Regions from separate parts of the Homo sapiens genome. Here region 1 is linked to region 2. The links come from fine-mapping of genetic effects on gene expression. Tissue or cell type: whole blood. Region 2 holds a variant in brackets; the other region holds the start of a gene. All regions are shown on one strand. Distances are between the middles of the regions.

Region 1 (8,092 bases), 79 kb after region 2:
GAGTGAGACCCTGTCTGTTAAAAAAAAAAAAAAAAGTAGACAATGCCATTTTCTGTTCTGAGACAGAGTTTTGCTCTTATTGCCCAGGCTGGAGTGCAATGGAGGGGTCTCGGCTCAATGCAACCTCTGCCTCCCACGTTCAAGCAATTCTCCTGCCTCAGCCTCCTGAATAGCTGGGACTACAGGCACCCACCACCACACCCGGCTAATTTTTGTGTTTTTTAGTAGAGACAGGGTTTCACCATGTTGGCCAGGCTCGTCTCGAATCCTGACCTCAGGTGATCCGCACACCTCAGCCTCCCAAAGTGCTGCGATTATAGGCGTGAGCCACTGTGCCAGGCCAACAATGCCAATTTCTAGTCATTTGTTTCCAATGTGTCTCCATAGGAAAGTTTTTTTATCTACAAGTCTTTTACTGTGTGTGTGTGTGTGTGTGTGTGTGTCCGTGTGCACGTGCGTGCATGTACTAACTATATCTTTAGCAGAAAAAAACAAACTCAAAAATTAATGAATTAAAGGTTTATCTGTGTGGCTGAGCTTGGTTCCTTGGAATGATAATATGCAATTTGTGAAATTCAAATACAATCATGGCAGTGAAAATCTGTATCATTTGCCAATGACATTCAGTGACCAGTTGTCAAGGGAGCGCTATTACTGAAGGTTATTTTAACAGAAACAAGTCATCACATAAGGACGTGAAGGATCAGAAAATAACTTACTGTTGTTGACCCAGAACTTACCCTATCTCCCACTCTCAAACTGGGGGGAGAAGGAGGTACCTAGAAAATTGTTCTCCCGTCTGCTCTCCTGGGCACACCACAGCCTGTCTCACTACTTCCATGAGCAAGGGGCACATCCCTGCTGTTGCTATGTCCCATGTTTTTCCAAGGGACACTCTGGGTCCTACTGCTTCTGAGTCGCAGGTTGAATCAGACGCTGTTTTTAAACACAGCATCGTAAGAAGCCCAAGAGCAAGTCACACAAACATCCCATAGAATTTGCGACTACACACACCAGTGGAAACCCATCGCCTGAGAAAATTTACATTTCTACTTAATTTAGCAAACTATGGTTACTATATAAAAACCCTTCTGCAATTCAAAATAGAGAAAATGAAGCTATAACTTACCTATAAATGAACTAGAATGATTAGCATAGGCCTCAGAACTGTCACAGTCAATCACTTTGCTGAGAGACAATTTTTTACACAGTGGACCTTCTACCTAGAATCCAAAACACAACAAACTCCATTTAAAAAATTCAAGCTCCAGGCCAGGCGTAGTGGCTCACGCCTGTAATCCCAGTACTTTGGGAGGCCGAGATGGGCAGATCACGAGGTCAAGAGTTCGAGACCAGCCTGGCCAACATAGTGAAACCCTGTCTCTACTAAAAATACAAAAATTAGGAGGGCATGGTGGCGCGTGCCTGTAGTCCCAGCCACTCGGGAGGCTGAGACGGGAGAATCACTTAAACCCGGGAGGTGGAGGCTGCAGTGAGCCGAGATCACCCCACTGCATACCAGCCCAGGCTACAGTGTGAGACTTTGTCTCAAAAAAAATAAATGAAAATAAAAAATAAAAATAAAAAAAATTCAAGATCTGTGCATAAACACAACCTGTGTGTAAGTAATGCTTCCCTACTGGGCTATTTTCCTTTTTTTCTTTTTTGAGAGGGAGTCTCACTGTCGTCCAGGCTGGAGTGCAATGGCGGGATCTCACTCACGGCGACCTCCACCTCCCAGGTTCAAGCGATTCTCCTGCCTCAGCCTCCTGAGCAGCTGGGATTACAGACACCTGCTACCATACCCGGCTAATTTTTGTATTTTAAGTAGTGACGGGGTTTCACCATGTTGGTCAGGCTGGTCTCGAACTCCTAACCTCAAGTGATCTACCCACTTCGGCCTCCCAAAGGGCTAGGATTACAGGCGTGAGCCACCACGCCCGGCTTTTTTTTTTTTTTTTTTTTTTTTTTTTTTTGTGAGACAGTCTCACTCTGTAATCCAGACTGGATTGCAAGGGGCGTGATCTCGGCTCACTGCAATTTCTGCCTCCCGGGTCCAGGTTCAAGCAATTCTCCTGCCTCAGGCTCCCGAGTAGCTGGGATTAAAGGCGTGCGCCACCACACCCAGCTAATTTTTGTATTTTCAGTAGAGACCGGGTTTCACTATGTTGGCCAGGCTGGTCTCGAACTCCTGACCCTGAGTGATCCACCCGCCTTGGCCTCCCCAAAAGCTGGGATTACAGCCCTGAGCCACGGCGCCCGGCCTGTTTTTTTGTTGTTGTTGTTTTGTTTTTAATAAAAGAGGCGGGGTCTCACCCCGTTGCCCAGGTTGGTCCAGAACTCCCGGGCTCAGGCGACCCTCCCCTCTGCGGGCCAGGCCACCGCGCCCGCCGCCTCGGGTGTTTTCTTAGGAAAGCTGTGCGGTGGCTGGACTCAAAAACCCCGAACCTAAATCTGCCCGCAGACGGACACCAGCTTCCTCTTACCTCAAGCAAAAGGGCATTCAGGTCCTGATGGCTTCGCAGGAGGCGCACAGCTGATTCCTTTAATTTCTGTGCCCTTTCAGGATTATATTTTTCCCTCTTGACCCTTCCCGCTACGGAGAGAAGTCGGTTCGAAACCATCACAGCACAATTCACACACGGGGTCCCCGGCCCGACGCGCAGGTGGACGCCGCGGAGAAACCCACCAGCGACACCCTCCCGAAGAGGGGCCGGGGCTCCTCCCCAGGGCGCAGGTCTCGGGAAACTAACGGAGACGGCCCCACCGCGGACGCCGGGGAAGACGGCCCAGGAGGGCCCGAGGCAGGGGAGCCCGGGGACGGCTGGCGAGGGGCGGCCTCTGCGCTGAGGGGAGCCCCAGGCCGCGCACCCCAGGCCCGCCTGACAGGGCGGCCGGCGGGGGCGGCGTTCGGGAAAGAAGGGAGCGCCCCGCGGGCGGCGGCTGGGGGCGTCCGCCCAGGCGCAGGAGGGGCCGGGTCCGAGGCAGCCGCGCCGCCCCAGCCGGGCGCCCACCCCGCACAGCCCCCCGGGCGCGGCGTCCGGGGATCCGACCGGCGGAGGCTCTGGCGGGAAGGGATCGGGGAACCGGCGAAACCGTCCCGGGCCGGACGCCGCCCACTCCCGCGGCCTGCCGCGCCCACCTACCCAGCAGCTCGGCCCAGGCCCTCCGGCGGCCCCCTGGGTCCTGGCCCGAGGCGGAGTTCGGGACCCACGAGTCGGACATGGCCTTGGCGCCTACAGCCCCGGCGGCGGCTCCCTGCGCCCGAGCCCGCGCTGCCTTCCTATTGGCTGCGGCCAGGCGCGCACACCCGTTGGCTGGCGGCGGCCAGGCCACGCCCCTCAGGTCGAGGCCTTGCGTCGTGGCCATGTTGGTCCTGGGGGAGGCGCCTGCGCGCGGTGAGGTAGTTTTTGCGTTTGGCTTTGCCGCCGCGGTGTAGTCCGCGGGGGCGTCTCGCGCGGGCAGACTGCCGCCCCTCAAGCGTGGTTCCTGCCGGGAATGACTGGGGTTGGTCCTGAAGAGACCACCTGGCCAACCAAGCCGAGGCAGGCTCAGAGCGCCGCGGGGAGCGCAAAGCCGCGCGCGCCTCTGAGCTCCGGGCAGCCGCTGTTCCTCCCGGCGGCCGAACGGTCCGCGCGCAGGGCGGTGTTTCGGCAGCCGGAGACCGCGCGGTAGCCGCGCCTGTATTCCCAGCGCTTTGGGAGGCCGAGGCTGGAGGGTCGCTTGAGCCCAGGAATTCCAGACTAGCCTGGGCAACAGAGCGAGACCCCATCACTTTTGTTTCTTTTCTTTTTTTTTTTTTTCCTTTTTTTGAGACGGAGTCTCCCTCTGTCGCCCAGGCTGGAGTGCAGTGGCGCGATCTCGGCTCACTGCAACGTCTGCCTCCTGGGTTCAGGTGATTCTCCTGCCTCAGCCTCCCGAGTAGCTGGGATTGCAGGTGCGCGCCACCACGCCTGGATGATTTTTGTTATTTTTAGTAGAGACAGCGTTTCGCCATGTTGGCCCAGGCTAGTCTCGAACTCCGGACCTCAGGTGATCCGCCCGCCTCGGCCTCCCAAAGTGCTGGGATTACAGGCGTGAGCCACCGCACCCGGCTGAGACCCTATCTTTTAACCAGCCTGGGCGGCAGAGCGAGACTCTGTCTCAAAACAAAACCAAACATAAGAATTCGTAAAAGCGAGTGCCTAGGCGAAGCTAATGTGCCTCAAAGTCCTGGGTAAGTAGAGGCCCTGGAGACCCGTCCGCATCCTCTGGCAGTGGCCTTGGAACCACCGAAGGGATTCAGCCGAAGGGCCGCGTTCCCGGCAGGCGTCTTTATTGTGTTGATTACGTAGATGGCGTAGATGACGTAGATGACGTTCAGCACCACAAACGAAGAGCCGAGGCACAGAGTGGGGCCTTGGATTCATGAGATGGGGATGGAGCAGAAATGAGAATTCGGAGTCCATGAAACCCCCACAAAGACTCCTGCACGGCCCGACTCGGACACTTTGCAATCTGCTGGTTGAGGGGGATGGTGTGAACTCAGGGAACAGCCTGAGATCGCGCCGCTGCACTCCAGCCTGGGCAACAGAGCAAGACCCTGTTTCAAAAACAAAAAATAACACTAAGCAATTAACAGGACTAGACTCAGAGGTGATCGAGAAATTGAAACAGGCTGGAAATTTAAATTAACTGTGATTAATATGTGGAGGTCTCTTGTACGAAAGGTGAACAATATGCATGAGGAGGAAACTCATCAAATTATAAGAAAGGAAGAACGCTGATAACAGGTAATTTTTCTGATGGGGCAGCAGTAGGATCAACACAGCTGAGAAAAATAGGAATTACCCACGTTGGAAAATAAAGAAGAAAAAAAGTTTTTTTTTAAAAAAAGCATCCAAGAACTGTGGGAAAATATCAAATGATATCATATGCATGTAATAGGACTCCCAAAAGAAGAAGAAAGAACAAATCATAAAAAATGTTTGAAGAGAAAATTACCAATAATTTTCCCAAAATAATGAAAGACCTGAGCTCAGAGCACACACAAAACTTGATAAATATGAGCCCCTGCCTGACACATGCAGTGTATTCAAACTGTGGAAATCAGAGAGAAAACCATGAAGATGGCCGGAGGAAAAAGATACGTTAAATACAGTAACAAAGGTAAGAATTCCAGCCTGGGCAATATGGCAAGACCTCGTCTCTACAAAAAATACAAAATTTTTTTTTTGTATTTTTTGTATTGCCCAGTGTGGTGACACGAGCCTGTAGTCCTGTGGGCGGAGAATTACCCAGGTGCCGAGGCAAGAGACCGAAGGCACAAACTATTTCAGTATAATAAAATCGTTACAATAAGAACAGTCATAATACAAATTATGGAGATGATCATGGACAATTATCAATTATTATAAACATTAATCATTAGCTTTTAATATTACTGTTTGTTGCATTACTAATATAACCTAGGAATAACCGGTGGGTATAGGGTCAGGTGCTGAAAGGACATTGTGAGAAGTGAGTGGAAGGCAAGAGGTGAACCTTCTGTCATGCCCGCATAAGGGCCGCTTGAGGGCTCCTTGGTCAAGCGGTAACGCCAGTGTCTGGGAAGGCACCCGTTACTTAGCAGACCATGAAAGGGAGTCTCCTTTGCTTGGAGGAGTCAGGGAACACTCTGCTCCACCAGCTTCTTGTGGGAGGCTGGATGTTATCCAGGCCTGCACGCAGTCATCCGGAGGCCTAAACCCCTCCCTGTGGTGCTTCACTGGTCACGCTCCTTGTCCACTTTCATGTTCCTCCCTTACTTCTGGTTCGTCTTTGAAGTTCGTAGTAGATAGCGGTAGAAGAAATAGTGAAAGTCTTAAAGTCTTTGATCTTTCTTATAAGTGCAGAGAAGAAAATGCTGACGTATGCTGCCTTCTTTCTCTGCTTCACCTACCTGAAAGGGAAGGGCCCCCATCCTGTAATCACGTGACATGCTTCACCTTGTCAATCACTTAGAAGATTCACCTTCCTTACGCTGCCCCCTTGTCATGTATGCAATAGATATCAAAGAGCCTAGCCGTTCGGGGCCGCTACCAGTCTCCGCGTCTTGATGGTAGTGGTCCCCGGGGCCCAGCTGTTTTCTCTTTATTTCTTGGTCTTGTGTCTTTATTTATTACAATCTCTCTTCTCCGTACATGGGGAGAACACCCACTAAGCCCCATAGGGCTGGACCCTACATAGTCCCAGCTACTTGGGAGGCTGAGGTGAGAGGATCACTTGAGCCCAGGAGGCTGAGGCTGCAGGGAGCCACCATCACGCCACTGCACTCCAGCCTGGATGACAGAGTGACACCCTGTCTCAAAAAAAAAAAAAAGGCAGGGGTGCTGGGCACGGTGTCTCACACTTGTAATCCCAGCATTTTGGGGGGCCGAGGCCGGTGGATCACCTGAGGTCAGGAGTTTGAGACTAGCCTGGCCAACATGGTGAAATCTCATCTCTACTAAAAACACAAAAATTGGCCAGGTGTGGTGGCTCATGCCTGTAATCCCAGCACTTTGGGAGGCCAAGGCAGGCAGATCACCTGAGGTCAGGAGTTCAAGACCAGCCTGACGAACATGGAGAAACCCCGTCTCTACTAAAAATACAAAATCAGCCAGGTGTGGTGGTGCATGCCTGTAATCCCAGCTACTCGGGAGGCTGAGGCAGGAGAATCGCCTGAACCCAGGAGGCGAAGGTTGCAGTAAACCAAGATTGCGCCACTGCACTCCAGCCTGGGCAACTAGAGCAAAACTCTTGTCTTGGCCCGGCGCAGTGGCTCACGCCTGTAATCCCAGCACTTTGGGAGGCTGAGGCAGGCGGGTCACCTGAGAGCAGGAGTTCGAGACCAGCTTGGACAACATGGTGAAACCCCATCTCTACCAAAACTACAAAAATTAGCCGGGTGTGGTGGCAGGTGCATGTAATTCCAGCTACTCAGGAGGCTGAGGCGGGAGATTTGCTTGAACCCAGGAGGCGGAGCTTGCAGTGAGCTGAGATCGTGCCACTGCACTCCAGCCTGGGTGACAGAGCGACACTCCGTCTCAAAAAAAAGATAATTTTCTGTCTAGGACAAGTGGGGTGGCTCATGACTGTAATCCCAGCGCTTTGGGAGGCTGAGGTGGGTAGATCACCTGAGGTCAGGAGTTCGAATTTGGCCTGGCCAACATGGTGAAACCACATCTCTACTAAAAATACAAAATTAGCCGGGCGTGGTGACCAGTGCCTGTAATCGCAGCTACTTGGGAGGCTGAGGCTGGAGAATCACTTGAACCCAGGAGATGTAGGTTGCAGTGAGCCGAGATCATGCCAACTACAGCCTGGGCGACAGATTGAGACTCTGTCTCAAAAAAAAAAAAAAAAGCGTATGGTGGCGCGCGCCTGTAATCCCAGCACTTTGGGAGGCCGAGGTGGGCAGATTACCTGAAGTCAGGAGTTTGAGACCAGCGTCCCCAACATGGAGAAACCTGGTCTCTACTAAAAATACAAAAAATGAGCCGGCTGTGGTGGTGGGCACCTGTAATCCCAGCTTCTGGGGAGGCTGAGACAGGAGAATCGCTTCAGCCTGGGAGGCAAACCTTGCAGTGAACTGAGATCATGACACTGCACTCCAGCCTGGGCGACAAGAGCAAAACTCCCTCTCGAAAAGAAAAGAAAAGAAAAGAAAAGTTCATCTGTCCTTTGATCTGGCACATCTTTTATAATGGCCTGTTCTGCCTCTGCCTTGTCACTGAGCAGTGTGGGGAGAATTATGCCCATGAGTTGTGAGGAACTTCTGCATTCTTTTTTTTTTTTTTTTTTAAGATGGAGTCTCACTCTGTTGCCCAGGCTGGACTGCAGTGGCATGATCTTGGCTCACTGCAACCACTGCCTTCCAGGTTCAAGCGATTCTCCCGCCTCAGCCTCCCGAGTAGCTGGGATTACAGGTGCCTGCCACCACGCCTGTCTAATTTTTGTATTTTTAGTAGAGACAGGGTTTTGCCATGTTGGCCAGGCTGGTCTCAAACTCCTGACCTCAGGTGATCCGCCCGCCTCGGCCTCCCAAAGTGCTGGGATTACAGGCGTGCGCCACCGCGCCTGGCCTTTTTTT
Region 2 (8,089 bases):
CTAGGCAGTTTGTCAAAACTAATAGCCAAGCAATCTTGGTGTCCTTTTGCAAATTGGTCATTTTATTTTTTAATTTTTTTTTGAGACGGAGTCCTGCTCTGTTGCCCAGGCTGGAGTGCAGTGGCACCATCTTGGCTCACCACAACCTCTGCCTCCCAGGTTCAATCAATTCTCCCGCCTCAGCCTCCCAAGTAGCTGGGATTACAGGCACCCGCAACCATGCCTGGCTAATTTTTGTAATTTTTGGTAGAGACGGGGTTTCACCATGTTGGCCAGGGTGATCTCTAACTCCTGACCTCAAGTGATCTCAGCCTTCCAAAGTGCAGAGATTACAGGTGTGAGCACTGCACCTGGCCCAAACAAGTGTATCTTAAAAGGCAAGGCAGAAGGCATGAAGGCACACCAGCTCTGGGGAGCTGCCCACGTGGACAGGCGGGAGGCACGTGTGGTTCTGCCTTTTCACATGTGTGTAGGTCGTGTCATTAAGACCGGAGGCGGATGGGGGAATTATGACTGAGGGTGCTGTCTCTGTGCCCGTCTTATTTTTCACAATTTCTATAATGCACAAGTTACTTTTATAATCCAACAAGGATATGTTTTCAAAATGACAAACTTGGCCGGGCGTGGTGGCTCACACCTGTAATCCCAGCACTTTGGGAGGCTGAGGTGGGTGGATCACCTGAGGTCAGCAGTTCAAGACCAGCCTGGCCAACATGGTAAAACCTGGTCTCTACTAAAAATACAAAAATTATCTGGGTGTGGTGGCACACGCCTGTAGGCACAGCTACTTGGGAGGCGGAGGTGGAGGTTGCAGTGAGCCGAGATCACACCACTGCACTCCAGCCTGGGCAACAGTGAGACACTGTCTCAAAAAAAAAACTTGTTTGAACCACGTGGACCCACATATCCATGGTCAGGGACTCGAATCCCTGGTATTCAGAGGGCTGCCTTTTCCTAAGTGCAGGTTCTGTAGGGTCTTTGCAGGGCTAACTTCGGGACTTCAGTATGAGCAGATTTTGGTAAGGGGTGGGGGGGGGCCTGGAACCAGCTGAGGACAACTGTATATTGATCCTTACACACACAGTTTTCCTTGGTTTTGAACTTATTACAGAATAAGAATTATTTATTCTTACTTGAATTTACTGAAGTATTTTTTCATTAGGATTGCTTTTCACTGCTGGGTCATCTCCCGACATGCGGGTTGTTATTTTTTGGGTTCTCCGACATCTCTCCTGATGGCAGCACTTCCTTGGGTTTGGTCCTTCAGACTCTGCATCTGTCCGGTCACTGATGGTCACAACCAGCAGTTCCTTAAAAACCTGAAATTGGGCCGGGTGCAGTGGCTCATGCCTGTAATCGCAGCACTTTGGAGGCTAAGGCAGTAGGATTGCTTGAGGCCAGGATTTTGACACCAGCCTGGGCAACATAGTGAGGCCGTCTTTACCAAAAACTTTTTTTTTAATTTATTGATGGAAACAGTCTCACTCTTATCACCATGGCTGGAGTGCAGTGGCGCGATCTTGGCTCACTGTAACCTCCACCTCCCTAGTTCAAGCAATTCTCCTGTCTCAGCCTCCTGAGTAGCTGGGATTACAGGCATCTGCCACCACGCCGGGGGTGTTTTTTTTTGTTTGTTTGTTTGTTTTTTTGACTGAGTCTTGCTCTTGTCGCCCAGGCTGGGGTGCAGTGGCACAATCTCAGCTCACTGCAAGCTCCTCTTCCTGGGGTAAAGCCATTCTCCTGCCTCAGCCTCCCAAATAGCTGGGACTACAGGTGCTGGCCACCACACCCAACTAATTTTTCGTATTTTCAGTACAGACGGGGTTTCACCACGTTAGTGAGGCTGGTCTCAATCTCCTGACCTTGTGATCCACCTGCCTCGGCCTCCCGAAGTGCTGGGATTATAAGCGTGAGCCATGACGCCTGGGTAATTTTTCTATTTTTAGTAGAGAGGCAGGTTTTGCTATGTTGGCCAGGCTGGTCTCGAGTTCCTGACCTCAGGTGATTTGCCTGCCTTGGCCTCCCAAAGTGCTGGGATTACAGGCATGAGCCACCGTGCCCAGCCCCCAATTTTTTTTTTTTTTTCCGGGACAGTCTGTGTCGCCCAGCCTGGAGTGCAGCTGTGCAATCTCAGCTCACTGCAACCTCCACCTCCTGGGTTCATGCAATTCTGCTGCCTCAGCCTCCCGAGTAGCTGGGACTACAGGTGTGTGCCACCACACCTGGCTAATTTTTGTATTTTTAGTAGAGACAGGGTTTTACCATATTGATTGGGCTGGGGCTGGTCTTGAACTGACTTCATGATCCGCCTGCCTTGGCCTTCCAAAGTGCTGGGATTGAGCACTTTGTGTAAGCCACTGCACCGGCCCCCCAAATTTTTTAAATTACCTGGGTGTGGTGGTGCACACCTGTGGTCCCAGCTACTTGAGAGGTTGAGGCAGGAGGATCACTTAAGCCTGGGAGTTCCAGGCTATAGTGAGCCATGATTGTACCATTGCACTTCAACCTGGGCAACAGAGCAAGACCCTGTCTCCAAAAAAAAAAAAAAAAAAAGAATCCCTTGAACCTGGGAGGTGGAGTTTCCAGTGAGCTGAGATTGGGCTGTTGCACTCCAGCCTGGGCAACAGAGCAAGACTCAAGTCTCAAAAAAAAAGAACAGCGTAGAGTAAAATGCCAAGATAGGGTTTCCCTTCGAAGAGAAAAGTCTGTCTTGTGAAGCGTTTCAGGGCTTGACAGATGTGGAGGCAGCACAGGGTGAGTGGGTCTGCATGTCCACATGTGGCATTTGTGGACTAGCAAGTGAGATCTCTTTGTTCAAGGGTGTGAGAAAGATTTCCAGAGCCAGTACAGCAATGCATACCCCCAGACCCTGGGTATGGACCCCTCTCATATGGAGATGAATTCTAGAGAACAGCCATAGCTGTGACAATCAGTATTCTATACAACCTTAGTGATACGGCTTCCTTTAAGAATTTGTAGGCCAGGCACGGTGGCTCACACATGTAATCCCAGCACTTTGGGAGACCGAGGCAGGCAGATCACAAGGTCAGGAATTCAAGACCAGCCTGGCCAATATGGTGTAAACCCTGTCTCTACTAAAAATACAAAAATCAGCTGGGCGTGGTGGGGGGCGCCTGTAATCCCAGCTACTTGGCAGGCTGAGGCACAAGAATCGCTTGAGCCTGGGAGGCGCAGGTTGCAGTGAGCTGAGATCACGCCACCGCACTGCAGCCTGGGTAACAGAGCGAAACTCCATCTCAAAAAAAAAAAAAGACAAGAATCTGTGGTTAAGGAAATAGCTTTCTGAGGTTTCTTTAAAAACCATCCTGAAATGCACACAGCTGATGAAGCCA[C/T]GTGACAGTGTATAAAGCAGTTTAAAGATCTTAATAAACGAGGCCCTCATAGGCCCCTTGCTTGGGCCCACTGCATGGTGAACCATGTGCAGAAATGTCTTCCCAGCTGTGATGGTTTCACATTGTCATCGTCGTCCCCCCGGGAGGTTGGAGCATCAGGGGCCTGGACTCACTGGACTCTCCCCTCTCAGAGGTGCGGAACTATATCTGTGACGAATGTGGACAAACCTTCAAGCAGCGGAAGCACCTTCTCGTCCACCAAATGCGACATTCGGGAGCCAAGCCTTTGCAGTAAGTGTGAGTCAGGACCCCCTCCCAGGGCTGTGGCCCTCGCACCTTCTTATCTGCCTCTGTCCCCCAGGTGTGAGGTCTGTGGGTTCCAGTGCAGGCAGCGGGCATCCCTCAAGTACCACATGACCAAACACAAGGCTGAGACTGAGCTGGACTTTGCCTGTGACCAGTGTGGCCGGCGGTTTGAGAAGGCCCACAACCTCAATGTACACATGTCCATGGTGCACCCGCTGACACAGACCCAGGACAAGGCCCTGCCCCTGGAGGCGGAACCACCACCTGGGCCACCGAGCCCCTCTGTGACCACAGAGGGCCAGGCGGTGAAGCCCGAACCCACCTGAGGACGGCAGTGAGGATGAGCACCTCTAGCAGCCTGGACTCCGCAGTGGCTGTGTCAGCCTCACCCTTCGTGTGCACCCGCATGGGAGGGTCGGAGGGTGCTGCCCGCCCTTGGTGCTGGAGGCGGGCTTGGTGTCCGGCTCAAGTAGCCTTCCTCTGCTCTGGGACCAGTGGTTTATTTTCCCGCAAACGCTGAGTGACTCGGGGCCGGACAGTTCATAAATAATTGATTCCTTTCCCCACTAAAGCAGTCGAGGAGATTTGTAATCCACTTTTTAGTGCAACAAGAGCTCCATGTTATGCTTGTAATAAATTATTTACACGGGAGCTGGGCTGGTGTGCAGTGGCAGGTCCCGTCAGAAGAGATGAGGCTCCTGGGACAGGTCAGCGTCAGGGGCAGCCTGCTGTCTGCTCTGGAGGGCGGCGCTCACCTCTGGGTCGCAGTCCCCACGATCAGCCAGCAGCTGTGAGAGAGGAGCAGGTCCTCAGCCCATGCCGCCCACTAGGCCTCAGACCACAGGGGAGGGGCTCTGGCAGAAATAGTCGAGTTGTATTGCCAGCCAGGCAGGCACATGGCCCAGGCAGCTGTCAATTCTCATGTCCCCCACATGGCCCAAGGTGGGCATCTTGACGTTACCTCTGCCACGTGTGAGAAGCTCTTTTTCGGGCACCGAGGTATTAACTGCAGCAGAAAAAGACGAGCTTTTGTTATCAGTTCCACGGGGTTGCCCTAGAGAGAAAACAGGCAAACTCACAGGTTAGAAGACATACAGAAACAGGGCTGGTGTGTCCCCCATAGTCTGCATGCTGTGCCGGAACATTCTTTGGCAGAAGGAGCCTCCGGCTGGGGGGAGCTCCCCTGGAGGTGGGACTGGCCCTTGCACCTGCCTGACCCTTGAGCTCCAGGCTCCTGCCAGCTGGAGGTGAAACTGTGCTTGTATCCCCAGCCACGAAGAGCTGGACCAGCTTCAAGTACATGTCCACAGCAACATGCAGGAAGGCCTCTTCCCTGATGGCCGCGTCTTCATGGAAGTAGGAGAGAAGACTAGAGGTAAAGACATAGTGACAAATGGCTACAGACTGCTGGAAAGGTAGCAGGTGATGCCAAGGGATACTGCTCATCTGTGGAGCAGAGGCACAGACAACCCTTCCCATCTGGCGGGACCCAGAGGTGCTGAGATGGGGGTCTGGGAAACACTGCCCAGCCCTGACCAGCCCTGTGGGTGGAGGTACCTGTAAAAAGCGAAAGGCAGCAGCCTGGTGTGCTGATCCGGGGCCACACGGAGGAGGAGCCGCCCCAGCCTGAGGTCTGCAACACCAAGAAGTGGCTCAGGCAACTCTGGACATCTCTGCCTATTATCAGTGCTGGGGACACCCCTGGGGGTCGGGACGTGTACCCTGGGAGGCCTGGCTGTGGGGATAGTGTGGGGCGAACAGCCTGAGCTGAGGATACCCAGGTACCTGTCAGCAGCTGGGAGAGGATGGGGGGGTCGACCTCTTGCAGGAGGGTGGGTGTGGTGCAGAGAGAGGCAGTCCCCATGATAGGCCCATTGGTCCTGGGGTTGACCAGTGAGCCAGTAAATTATCTTATTGCTTTAAACAAGTTTGTGCTTAATCTGTCCCAACTAAAATGGAGCTTATAAACTTACTTAGCAAGGAACCTCAAGGAGGGCTCGTTCTTAACCATTTGCAAGATGCCTCTGAAAAGAGCGGCCCTCCGCATTTGTGCCTCAGCAGCGTGTTTCTTACCACTCTCTGTCAACTGAAAGAGTGCCAGCCAGGATATCTTCCTCTTCTCTAAACACTCGAGGATTGCTGCACAAACGTGGAAAGCCTTTGGCAGGTCTGTGGTGCTCTGTAAACCGCAGGAGACCAACCCTGAGAATGGCCGACCTGGTGCTCCCATGGGTAGGAGGGTACAGCCCTCAGCACAGAAGAGGGCATTTCCTCTTTGCTTATTGTAAGTCTTAAAACTGGTGACAGTTTTACCTATAGAAGGTAATACTGGGCCTCTGGACAGAAGAGGCTCAGGTAGGAGGCCAGGGACTTCGAGCACCCACACCAAGGCTGCTGCACCACGTCCTCAAATAAGACATTAAAAGAAAGGCCCACAGGCCGGATGCAGTGGCTCATGCCTGTAATCCCAACACTTTGGGAGGCCGAGGTCGGCGGATCACTGAGGCCAGTTCAAGACCAGCCTGGCAATATGGTGAAACCCCGTCTCTACTAAAAATACAAAAATTAGCCGGGTGTGACAGACTCACGCCTGTAATCCCAGCTACTCGGGAGGCTGATGCAGGAGAATTGCTTGAACCCAGGAGGCTGAGGTTGCAGTGAGCTGAGATCACACCACTGCACTCCAGCCTGGGTGACAGAGTGAGACCCCCATCTCAAAAAAAAAAAAAAAAAACCCACGGCCTGGGAGTTCTCACTCACACTTCCGCAAACACAAGGAGCTCCTGAGCTAGTCTGGAAACCCTGACTTGGAAGCTGGCTGCCTGGTGCCCCTGCCTGGCCCACAGTGGGAGAGGACACCTTGGCTGGTAAGGTCTGACTTACATTTGAGGTCAGATGTGACGACAGCAGGCCCATCAAGGAGAAGAAGAAAAGGAAAACCAATAGCTGTAAATAAAAACGTGCACTTATTATTACATTAAAATTACCTGTGCTGTCATTCTAAATAAGGCTGACACATTCCTCTTTAATTGAAATTTTTTACATCTAGGCCATAAATCCTTTAAGTGGATCTTAGAAAACTTTCCAATCACTTCTAGAGAGACAGCTTAATTGAGAATTAATTACTACTGGCTGGGTCATTTCACACTTGCCTTTAAACAAAGCTAGAAACAGTTTGAAAAAGTGACAAGAGCCAGAAAGAGAAGACTGCTGCGGTCTCCTTGGCTGTGCGCAGTCCCAACTCAGCATCATCTCCCTGCAAGGCCTCCTGTCAGAAGTGTTTGTAAAATCCTTGAAGATAAGCCCACAGGCTCCAGCCTAAAGTAGGGCCTGACTGGGCAGGGTCTCTGTGGACACTCCTCGCTGCACACTAGGGTCCTAAGGCCCTGGAGCCACTAAAATCCCTTCTAACAAAACTACACAAGAAACCTGAAGACGTACTCAGAAGAACCCCTGCAGGGTGGTTATAATCACCAAAACCCTGGGCGCTGCTGTCGATCCAGCTTTGAGCTGGTGTAAGTTGTGTGCTGACATGGCACCTATGCGTTGCGGATCTCGGGCTGGGCACAGAGGGCTGCTGCCTCCAGCTCTCTTGTGGGATGCTTGTTTCTGTTCCTGTTCTGCACACACCACCCTTGGCTCCCTGCACAGAGAGCTGTGTGGGTGTCACTGGTCTTGTGGGGGCAGTCAGGCTTTCCAGGGTGCAGCAACCAGGTGGGCAGTGGGTCTGAGTCGAACATGGTCCCTGGCCTGGAATTCAAGAGCAGCCTCTCCCACTCCTTTCCCTATGCCTATGGCTGCAGACGGTCCCATCCTTGCTGCCTCTTGTCCCCAGCACCCCAGGTCTGAGCTGTCTCACTGCAAGCTTATCTGGGGCTGTCCCTCAGCACATGAATCAAGGCTACTGCAGCATGAACACAGAAGGCACCACTTGAAGGCTGACAGCATTTACGCTGGGCTGTGATGAGGATAAAAATAAGCTGAAGAAACGCACTTCAAGCCTGGGCAACACAGTGAGACCCCCATCTCTTTTAATTTTTACTTTAAACAAATTTTTTTTTTTTGAGACAAGTCTCGCTCTGTCACCCAGACTGCAGGGCAGTGGCGTGATCTTGGCTCACTGCAGCCTCTGCCCCCTGGGTTCAAGTGATCCTCCTGCCTCAGCCTCCTGAGTAGCTTTACAGGCTATGGGATTGTAGGTGCGCACCACCACACCCGACTAATTTTTGTGTTTTTAGTAGAGACAGGGTTTCACCATGTTGCCCAAGCTGGTCTCAAACTCCTGACACCAAGTGATCCGCCTGCCTCGGCCTCCCTAAGTGTTGGGATTACAGGCATGAGCCACCATGCCTGGACTACAGACCCCCATCTCAGAAAAAATTACAAAATTAGCCGGGCATGGTGGCACACACCTGTAGTCTGAGCTACTC

What was found. PIP is the estimated chance that this variant, and not a neighbour inherited with it, causes the effect.
Region 1: it holds the start of FANCA, and the variant in region 2 is fine-mapped to the expression of FANCA in whole blood (TOPMed, PIP above 0.99).

Annotation. Positions count from the first base shown.
Region 1 is chr16:89,813,391-89,821,482 of GRCh38, forward strand. It overlaps FANCA (FA complementation group A), which reads right to left and starts at 3,257. Exons shown (of 43, transcript NM_000135.4): 1 at 3,147-3,257; 2 at 2,487-2,596; 3 at 1,130-1,223. The coding sequence starts at 3,225. RefSeq lists silencers at 2,761-2,810, 3,041-3,330 and enhancers at 3,191-3,485, 3,871-3,920.
Region 2 is chr16:89,734,262-89,742,350 of GRCh38, forward strand. It overlaps ZNF276 (zinc finger protein 276), which reads left to right. Exons shown (of 11, transcript NM_001113525.2): 10 at 3,545-3,644; 11 at 3,715-6,664. The coding sequence ends at 3,985. It overlaps FANCA (FA complementation group A), which reads right to left. Exons shown (of 43, transcript NM_000135.4): 38 at 6,543-6,605; 39 at 5,733-5,838; 40 at 5,217-5,292; 41 at 4,872-5,028; 42 at 4,621-4,713; 43 at 3,288-4,447. The coding sequence ends at 4,340. Among named protein-coding and RNA genes, the nearest start is that of ZNF276, 17 kb to the left of the region's middle. RefSeq lists enhancers at 6,377-6,546, 6,789-6,958, 7,074-7,243 and a silencer at 7,377-7,577. The variant C/T (reference allele first, on the strand shown) is at 3,354.